Linked DNA regions of Homo sapiens. The protein of the gene in region 1 interacts with the protein of each later gene in a biochemical or structural test. Each region holds a gene or a part of one and is shown on either strand. Other genes may lie near its edges.

The links.
Region 2: the proteins of WTAP (region 1) and WT1 form a complex in vitro, tested with the Homo sapiens proteins (one study listed by BioGRID).

Annotation. Positions count from the first base shown.
Region 1 is NC_000006.12:159,744,272-159,751,575, forward strand, and holds part of WTAP (pre-mRNA-splicing regulator WTAP), read left to right. Parts: intron 1-3,919; coding exon 3,920-4,098; coding exon of another isoform or gene 4,099-4,102; exon of another isoform or gene 4,103-4,318; coding exon of another isoform or gene 4,319-4,379; exon of another isoform or gene 4,380-5,148; intron 5,149-7,304. UniProt on the Homo sapiens protein: Associated component of the WMM complex, a complex that mediates N6-methyladenosine (m6A) methylation of RNAs, a modification that plays a role in the efficiency of mRNA splicing and RNA processing.
Region 2 is NC_000011.10:32,387,145-32,390,713, reverse strand, and holds the end of WT1 (Wilms tumor protein), read left to right. Parts: intron 1-1,534; coding exon 1,535-1,656; 3' UTR 1,657-2,939; downstream 2,940-3,569. UniProt on the Homo sapiens protein: Transcription factor that plays an important role in cellular development and cell survival. Recognizes and binds to the DNA sequence 5'-GCG(T/G)GGGCG-3'. Regulates the expression of numerous target genes, including EPO.

The DNA.
Region 1 (7,304 bases):
CTACGTAGATCTGAAATCTAGTGACATAATTGATCATCCAGCTCTGGTAGTTTAGGCTCAATCTTACGGTGTAATTATACAAAATAATTAGAGGCAGCTGTATCCTTGTTTCTGATTTTAAAATCTGAATGTTTCTTCAATTCTTTGTGTACTCTCCCTTCATTTGGTACATATAGAAGTCTTCTTATGTGTTATTAAAGTCTTCTAAGATAGTATTCTGGTCATTGGAGACACCAAAAATCTATGGGCACAGTCCTGTTCTGTTTCTTTTGCCAATAGAATGTTCCTTAAGGTTCAGTCACAGTCCTTTTACTTCCCTTACAGAGATTGTTTAAATTTCCACAAAAGCACGTATTTACTCTTCTTTCACTTGTTACTAAATGACTTCTTCACATTTTACTTTGCTAAAGGCTGGCTTTTATCATTTTCTTTACTTTTTTTTCCCACTAACCCCCCCGCCCTTTTCTTGAGACAGGGCCTCTCTCTCATCCAGGCTGGAGTGCAGTGGTGTAATCACACCTCACTTCAGCTTCCCGAGTAACTGATTTCAGGTGTGCGCCACCAAGCGCAGCTAATTTCTTAATTTTTGTAGAGATGAGGTCTTCCCTATGTTGCCCAGGCTGGTCTTGAACTGCTGTACTTTGGCAATCCTTACTCCTTGGCCTCCCAAAACTGTTGGGATTATAGGTGTGAGCCATCGCACCTGGCCCATTATCATTTTCTCTACCTTCTTAACACATTTTGTCCTTTTGTTTCTATCAGTTTTGTTGTAATTCTTACCACCACTGATACTTCTTTCTCCATAGTTACTAATGAATGTTTTAACAAATTTCCCTTTACACGAGAAATGGATCTTACCTTTAGACTGCTAGCACTTGGGAGATAGAGTGTGAATAGAAGGTGTTGATGGTAATATCTCATAGGATCAGAATGTCTTGAATTCCATTTCTCTTCCGGATTCCTACTCTTGACATCATAGTTGATGTGTGCACATCACAATGTTTGTGCTATTCATGCACATCTGATTCTCCATCTGTCCTATATGCGCTGGCAGTTTTGATCATATTACGCCTGGTCAAGGCCTTCGGTGATACCTCATCACTCTTGTCTCCTCGACCTGGATTTTAAGGTTATTTCAACTATAATGGAACCTAACCTTTTCCAGCTTTTTTTTTTTTTTAAAACAGCTGTCACCTGCATACGCCAGCTGAACAACTTCCTGTTCTTCCAATTATAATACAAGTGAGGTTTTGCAGACAGGGCAGGGCAGCAGGAGCAAAATCACAAGGAAAGGTCAAGATTATATATGGCAGATGAGGATAAAGTTTCAGGTGAGAGTGAAAAAAGATGAGGTCAGCCTGGAATCTTGGGTATTCTAGAAGAGAGGGGACTACTGAAGAATTCTTCAGCAAGAGATGTATGTGATGGATCAGATTTAGATTTACATTTTAGGTAGATCACTCTGACTTGAGTATGAAAGATAGATTTGAGAGGAACAGGACTTTAAGCAGGAAAACCAATTGTGAGGCTGTTAAAATAGTTCAGATGAAATACATGAAGCCACTGGTGGTAGCAGACAGGACAGAATAGGTGTTTTGGAGGCACAATCAATAGGACTTGTTTAGTTTGGATGCTGTTGTGGAAGGAATGAAAAAAATCTAGGGAGGAATCACAGCTTCAGGTTTGTCTTGTTTGACTGAGTAACGATGCTACTAGGATAGATCCTACAAAGATCAAATTTTAAAAGAAGAGTAGAGTGTGGTGTTAGGAAAACAGGAAATCCAGCATTCCCTCCTCCTTCCCCAAAATACAAAGTGATTAAAACAAAGGCATACATAAAGTTCTGTACAATACGAATTTAAAATTGTTCGTTAGATTTGGCAGTTAAGAGGTTGTTGGCCAAGGAAGCCAAAAGATTGGATACCCCTGCTCTAGAGGAACTGTCAAGTGGGAAGTGAGAGAAACTAAATTTAAAGAGTAGAAAGAATGGGAGTGATGTACTATAGGAGTTTGGAGGGAATAGGTTAAGCGAATGGTTGAAAGGATTGGCCCTGAGAAGGAGGGTTTCTTACCCTCTTGAGTGAAAAATAGTGGAAAGGTTTGTATTAGGTACCTGTCCTTTAAAACAGAGCTGCTGCATTTACCCTTGGTGTTTCAAATTAAGCTAAGCTTAGAAAAAATAAAATATACATCCTTAGGAATCTATTTGTGTAGATCTTTTGTTTGTCCAGCATACTAACTCATCCATTTGATCTTTTAATAATAATGCTTTATTTCTTTGTCTACATGCAGTCTTTGCCAAGTACATCAGTAGTCAATTTAGTTAGTTTTGAGCGTAAGGCATAAATTAGCCACGTAGTTACTATATTCTTAACTATATACTGTATTCTTAACTATATTTTATTTTGTTGGTAAGTAAAATCTGTCATTTTTGTTCACCTCAGTGGTATTTCTGTTTTTCATTTAGTCTTTTGCCAATCAACTCAAAATAGATTTAGGAATAAAACTAACTTTGAAAACACTTTACTCAGTGTTCTCTTCCCTAGAACATGGAATTTATTCTAGTCTGATTCACCTCTCTTTTCATGAATGAAAGTGTTGACTATTGGGTCTTTGTAAAGCTAAATAGTAACTGAGTCTCAGTCAGTGCTGTAGACTGTTTTAATCAGTCCTGTCAGTACATGGAGTGCACTGTAAGTCATGGTTTATTCTCGCTCTGTTATCTTAGCAGCTGGCTTCACATTGACTATGCAGTTGTACTAGATTTTTGCTCAGTGAAACAAATATATTCCCAAACCACTTAGTATATTTGTTCCTTTTACTAAATTTATATTAGAAAATTTTAACTGTAATCCTATTTAAGCCTTAGTATGGAGTTAGATCTTGGGCCAGATCTACTTTGAGTATGAAGAAAATGATGAATTTAATGCTAATAACTATATTTCATATTTTAGAAATGTATTTTTAGTGTGCTAGTAAATAGCACAACTGAAGTCGAAATTGAAGGTTTCATATGTAAGTAGAAGGGTTCTGGTATGGTGGAAAAAGCTCTAGACTGGGAATCAGAAGGCCGGAGAACTAGAATTGTAGTCCCGCTATGGCACTGAACTAAACAGTTGGGTTATTTAATCTCAAAATAAGCAGTTTGGATTAGGTGAGTTACTTTCCAGCTTTACAATTCTATGATTCGGATCTATTCAGAAGGGGAAAAATATGAATTATACTTTATTTTGGCTTAAGGTCCTATAGAGTTTTGCTTTTATAAAGCTGTAACAGCAACTCTTGTAGCTATAAGTACTGTATATTTTTTCCTTTAGAAATTCAAATGTGTATTTTAAGTTATAATCTTGCACCTGATGTATTTTTAGGGGACTTTACATAGAATAATTTCCACAGGTAAAAAATTAAGCAAACCAAAGACTTCATTAACTCTTAGGTAATTAATATTTTAAACTTTGCTTTTTTCCACTGGGTTGTCAGCATTTTTAGTAAATATAATGTTGATTTTCGTTTGTTTTTTGGTAATGTTTGGATTGTAAAGTAAAATGTATGTAGCCACTTTAAGTCCCAGATTTGGAGATGTAATCAAATGGCCTCAATTCCTAAGTGAGTAACCTTAAATAGTTATTTTTTTAATTGACAAATAAGTTTTTTACATATTCAAGGACTACTACATAGTGATGTTTCAATACATATAATGTATAGTGATCAGATCGGGGTAATTAGCATATTCATCAAATAGTTTTTAGTCTGTACTTTTTCTAGAAAGTTTTAAGATTTTTCTAGAGAATTTCAGGATCAAAGAGGGGAGGAGCTTAATGAAAGAGTTGGTAAATCAAGTGAATGGAGGGAGTTTTCCCCACCTTCTTATGTATGTTTCCTTTGATTTGGTCGTAATTGTTTCTTTTGCTTTGCACAGACTCAAATCCAGTACCTCAAGCAAGTCCAGCAGCCGAGCGTTGCCCAACTGAGATCAACAATGGTAGACCCAGCGATCAACTTGTTTTTCCTAAAAATGAAAGGTGAACTGGAACAGACTAAAGACAAACTGGAACAAGCCCAAAATGAACTGAGTGCCTGGAAGTTTACGCCTGATAGGTAAACAAATCATACTCCCCAGTCAAGACTTCCCTGACAGTCCCACTACGAGAAAGCTGTGGTGGGACAGCCAAGTACTCGTTTCCACACCAAGACTCAGACTTTTTGAGCCAAAAAAAAGCCACATTCTTACACTGTCCAGCTTGTAATGGTTAATGTAAAACTTACCAGATGAACCTTGTGTTTCAGCTTTTTTCTTTTCCCCTTCCCCTTGCTTCAGAGGCCTGATGGCGTCGGACTATTCCGAAGAAGTGGCCACCTCCGAAAAATTCCCCTTCTAGAACATGTAGACACTTGAGAAATGTTTCTGTTTGAAGAAAATAGAGGGAGAAACAGAAGTCTTAAGTCTGTGGCACACTGTGTCTTCAGACAGTTTGAAGGAATGAAAACCTAGAGATTTTAAATCATGAATTGAACATGTAAAATTCCAGTAAAATGTAAAAACGGAATATGCATCGCTCTTAACCTTGAGCATAGTGACTTAGAGACACTGTGTATCAGTTTTGCCAATAAGACTGTGGACTTCATGATTGTTGTTGAACTTCTGGGTCAAAACTCAAATGAGGTGAATTTTGCCTTTAAAGGGTTTATTTGCTGAGAACCAACTTTCAATAGTCATGAGAGAATCAAATAATAGATGTCCGTACAAGTAGCGCATATATTTAACCATTTAGTTTGGGGCTCTATATTACTTGCTTGAGCCTTAATCAATGTGGTTTTATTCAATGGTTTGTTCTTTGAATGGTTGCAAAAACTGTAGATAATCTTACTGAGGACTGTACAAACATGAAGGTGTGGTATCAAACTTCAGGTTGAAACTGTTTGAAGCATTATAAACATTCATTTCACAACTAGATTGTATAAGGATATTAGCTGTGATGAGACTCACTGCATTATTTTTTTTAGTGAATTTTATGAAATCCCCGTTCCATTCAACAGGCACATGTTTAAAAGAGCTTTGTCGTTGGTGTTAATGGGGGAATGTGTTCCTTCATTGTATTTGGGCCTTTTGTATTGCACTCTTGATATTAAATTAAATGTGCCTTGAAATAGTTGGTTTTTTTTTTTTTTTAAGTTCAAAGAATATTATGATGATTTTGTTGTACTCTTTAACATTTTAATTTGGGGCGGGGAGGGCCTGTTGAGAGCAGATTCATTTTGGAAATACTGTTGCTGTGCTCTTCAAAGTGAAGGAAAAGGCGCTGTGCCTCATTTTTAAAAGACCTACATAAAAGACAAGGAGACTTGACACTTGTTACTTTTATGACACTTTGTCCCAGGGTATTGCAGTAGAAAGTAATGTGGGACAGCTTCACAGGGTGTCTGCCAGAAGATAATGTGTTGGAACTGTGGGCTGGCCTAAGTAAGACATTTTGTGAATTGAAAAAAGGTATAGTGATCATTTCTAGCAAATTCATTTAATCATTTAGATAAATGAGGCATTATTTTCTTCATGCTTCCATCCAATCCTGGAGGTGAATTTTTTCCGTCAGATCATTCTATAAGTCACCAATTCAAATTTTCGCTTGGTGATAATGGAGTCTAAGATGAGTGGAAGATAAATGTTCCAGCTTGTCCCAACGTTTAAGTGCAGTTTTAACAAGGGTGACTTAAGTTCTCTCTTAATCATTCAAATCAATTGTAAGTATCATATGTTTGTGCTTTAGGGAACTGATTGTGGGGCAGAGGGTGGGTTGAAGAAGTGGTTTGTGTGACTTTTCAGCAAGAAATCTGCTTCTAAAATTCTCACTATTTGTGAGGGTTGGAGGGTAAGTAACCAGATCTGTTTGAAATTAGCTTATGTGCTTGCATTAAGGCTTTTGTAAATATTTTATGCCATTTAAGTTCACAGTAGAAATGGCCTAAGTATCTTTTTAGTAGATTTTAGTAGAAGAGTAATCCATAAAATGTATTATTAACATGTACTCAAATTGAGCAGGCATCTTTCTTTGACACTTAGATAACAGTCATGAGTTCTATGGTTTTTTTCTTGTCATTGTTAAAATTTTCTCTTTTAATAAGATAATACATGCTTATGTATAAAATTGAAATACTGTAGAGAAAGGGGGAGATGAAAAGTGAGTGTCACTCCCGGATGTGACCTTGACATCCTCATTCTCTTCTCCAAGAGCAGTAACTGCTATTACTTTTTCTTGGGTATCATCAAGATAATTTCTATGCATATACAGTTATTTTATGTATATTGTTTTAAACAAATGTGATCATACCATAAACACAGATGAGTTGCACCTTGTTTTTTTTTACTTGGTCTCTTTGGCATTTTTCCATTTTTTAATGTATCTAGACAACTACATTTTTAATGCTTACATAGTATATTTCCGTTATATTAAGGAATCATAATTTATTTGAATCACTTATAAATGGATTTTTTTCTATAAAATTGGCTGTAAGCCAGAGTATATCAGGTACTATAAATACATCACTAATTTGAAACAAATAATGGCTCAGGCAATCCCGTCTGGAATATTTCCAGTGGTGGAATGGGTTTTGCTTTGGGTTGCGTGCACGCGCACGCACGTGTGTGTCTTCGCTTTACTGTTTTTCTGTTCTAATTTTGAGGAAGAAAGATTCCCAGAAATAACCTGTCCAGTTCAGTTAAAATATTTCATTCATGTGAGAATGCACACATTTTAGAGTGTTTAGAGGTATATCTTTCAAAGTGCTTTCTATTATGTTTGTGGGTTAATCGATTTTAGGAATGGGTTGATTTTTTTGTTTGTAATTTTAAAAAATTATTTCAAAAACAACTACTTGTAATTAAATTATTTTTTCAAAACTGTGATTTTGTTAAAATTTATTTTACTAATCACTAGTTTTAAACGTGATATGACTATCTTAGCTTAGACATTTATTTATTAAAAGGTATGACTTTTTAAACGAAACCTTTTTTGCATTAGAATTTGTGACATTTTTATATGGGGTTAAGTCAGGTCACAGATTAATGTATCTTACAGTTGTCTTTTTCTACTCTTTAAAATTCATATAGTAAGAAGGTTAGTTGTAAACACCAATGAAATATATATACTTTGCAAGAAGACAGTTTTGAGAGCATAGGCAGTAAAGTGGAAGGAATTCCATTGTTTTTGACAATCTTGCATATCTCTCATTTTCCCATTGTTTAATTTCTAAGTGGATGTTCAGTGGAGGCTAACGCCTGAGAGTGCTGATGGGAAATGGTGGAAATC
Region 2 (3,569 bases), on another chromosome or scaffold:
AAGATGACAAGAGACAGGGTTGGGATTAGTCCATTAGGAGCCAGCCCTTAACAGCACTGCTGGAGGTGGGGTTGGAGAGTGAGAGCCAGGCCAGGAAGAGCAGAGGAACAGCGAGTGAAGGAAAACATGACATCACAAACCCCTGAGCAGCCCCAGATTCTTCGCCCAAATTGGCTGCATTTAAAAACAGAGCCAAGGCACCTGTGGCCCATGGTTGGCAGGATGGGATCTTGCTTCCCTTCCTCAGGTGCCTTTGATGCTTCTTTAACTTAGTCCTGAGCTCATAATTCGGTGGCAAAGTGTTATAGTCCCTTTGACACGGCTGTCACACTCCCCAAGTAAGTGTGACATGACCTGTTTTGCCAGCAGACTGTTTAATACCACATTTGATTGGCCTCCAGTCTGACCCTGGGACACCAGCCCTCCTGGGACATTTCTCAGTGCTTGTCCAAACCAGTAGTTCTCAGAGAAGGCCAAGTGGGACCAGCAGTATCTGAGAAGATCCGTCAGGTGGCACAGGGTTTAGCTTCTGTGCATTCTTCCTTAAGATGGAGCTGCAGCTGCTTTTCCATCATGGCTAGGCCTGGGAGGTGTGATACAGGGAAGAGCACGGGCTCTGGAATTCGACAGACCTGGAGATTTGAGTTCTGCCTGGATCTGCCCTCAATAGATGTCCTACCTCATCTGTAGAGTGGGGATAATAACGCTTCCCCTACGGGCAGTTGTAAGGAGTACATGAGGTTGTGTGTGTGCGTGTGTGAAGCCCAGCACAAGGCTTGGCATATGTTAAGCATCAAATAAATGGTAGTTATTCTCCCTAATGAGAATGAGGCTTGGAAAGAATGTCTGAGGGCTCTTTGGGTGGAGAAGCCTCAATCTTTTGGCAAGCTTATTAAAAATCTAAGAACCACGCCCCAACTAGAATCTTCCATATAACAGGATTATGCTCTCAGTAACACTTTAAGAGAAAAAAAAAAACAACACATAACATGTAAACTGGTATCAGTGATTTATTTTAAAGTATCCAGCCCATCCAGGGTATCTACACAGATAGAAGTGTTAAAAGCTTCAGTCACAGCTGAGATCCCTGGACAGTGATCACTCAGTAATACCCAGGGTAGATGACCCAGAGGCTTCTGCAGCCCAGTTCATCTCAGTTCCCAACTTACTCAACAAGGGGGAGAAATTTACACAGTTCACAAAACATTCTATCAGCAGAGACTGAAACAAACGTTTTTCCCCTTAATTATGAATTGCTCAGACATTTCCCCCAACTTGACTCATTCTTTATCTCCCACTTTCCAAGTTTTCTGACCTAAGAATATAACTTTTTACAATATTTCGATCCTTAAAGCCCCAAGAGGTGCTGCTGTTTCAAGGCTGCCTGGGAAATGAGCTCAGTTGGTTAGCTCAGGGACAGAATGATGGGAAATTCAGAGTGGGTGCCTTGTGATGACTTCACTCGGGCCTTGATAGTTGAACTTGTGCCTGTCTCTTTGTTGCAAGTGTCTCTGACTGGCAATTGTGTCAACAGGTGAAAAGCCCTTCAGCTGTCGGTGGCCAAGTTGTCAGAAAAAGTTTGCCCGGTCAGATGAATTAGTCCGCCATCACAACATGCATCAGAGAAACATGACCAAACTCCAGCTGGCGCTTTGAGGGGTCTCCCTCGGGGACCGTTCAGTGTCCCAGGCAGCACAGTGTGTGAACTGCTTTCAAGTCTGACTCTCCACTCCTCCTCACTAAAAAGGAAACTTCAGTTGATCTTCTTCATCCAACTTCCAAGACAAGATACCGGTGCTTCTGGAAACTACCAGGTGTGCCTGGAAGAGTTGGTCTCTGCCCTGCCTACTTTTAGTTGACTCACAGGCCCTGGAGAAGCAGCTAACAATGTCTGGTTAGTTAAAAGCCCATTGCCATTTGGTGTGGATTTTCTACTGTAAGAAGAGCCATAGCTGATCATGTCCCCCTGACCCTTCCCTTCTTTTTTTATGCTCGTTTTCGCTGGGGATGGAATTATTGTACCATTTTCTATCATGGAATATTTATAGGCCAGGGCATGTGTATGTGTCTGCTAATGTAAACTTTGTCATGGTTTCCATTTACTAACAGCAACAGCAAGAAATAAATCAGAGAGCAAGGCATCGGGGGTGAATCTTGTCTAACATTCCCGAGGTCAGCCAGGCTGCTAACCTGGAAAGCAGGATGTAGTTCTGCCAGGCAACTTTTAAAGCTCATGCATTTCAAGCAGCTGAAGAAAAAATCAGAACTAACCAGTACCTCTGTATAGAAATCTAAAAGAATTTTACCATTCAGTTAATTCAATGTGAACACTGGCACACTGCTCTTAAGAAACTATGAAGATCTGAGATTTTTTTGTGTATGTTTTTGACTCTTTTGAGTGGTAATCATATGTGTCTTTATAGATGTACATACCTCCTTGCACAAATGGAGGGGAATTCATTTTCATCACTGGGAGTGTCCTTAGTGTATAAAAACCATGCTGGTATATGGCTTCAAGTTGTAAAAATGAAAGTGACTTTAAAAGAAAATAGGGGATGGTCCAGGATCTCCACTGATAAGACTGTTTTTAAGTAACTTAAGGACCTTTGGGTCTACAAGTATATGTGAAAAAAATGAGACTTACTGGGTGAGGAAATCCATTGTTTAAAGATGGTCGTGTGTGTGTGTGTGTGTGTGTGTGTGTGTGTGTTGTGTTGTGTTTTGTTTTTTAAGGGAGGGAATTTATTATTTACCGTTGCTTGAAATTACTGTGTAAATATATGTCTGATAATGATTTGCTCTTTGACAACTAAAATTAGGACTGTATAAGTACTAGATGCATCACTGGGTGTTGATCTTACAAGATATTGATGATAACACTTAAAATTGTAACCTGCATTTTTCACTTTGCTCTCAATTAAAGTCTATTCAAAAGGAAAGTGGCAAGATTCCATCAGCTGTATTGTGTTCAAATCTCAAGGCCACTGAGCCTCTTTTAAACAGGTAAGAGAAGACGCCACCGACATCGACGGCTACTAGTGAGCCTATCCAGGTCCTGACCACAATTTATTTCTCTCTGTCAAACTTCAGGAGGGACTTATATGTCCTAGAAGCAACAGAGAATATCTTCACCTTGTGTTACAGAGTGATTGTGCTCATGCTGTGGTTGAATGGGGTTTGTGGATGATGTGGTGATTATGTTTTAAGGTTTTAAGGTTTATTTTAAGCAGATTGTCATTGCATCCCATCATCCCAGATCAGCAAAAGAAAATAGAGAGATGTTAATGACAACTAGTCCTTTTGAAAAGTTCAGATACATCACTGGGAGGGCATAGGCTGAACACCTAGTACAATTGAATTTACAGCTGTACTTGCTATAAATCAGCTCAGCAGATTGAAAACTGCTCAGCCTTTCCAGGGCAACTGAGTGTGAAAGCAAAGATCTATATTATCTATAAACTATAAACTCTCTTTCTGTTCTGGTGTATGGTTTTTGAATTGTAAATAAGGAGATTAATTTGGTGCAGCCCCTCTCAGCTCCATTATCTTGGGGCTTGCATGCATTCCGG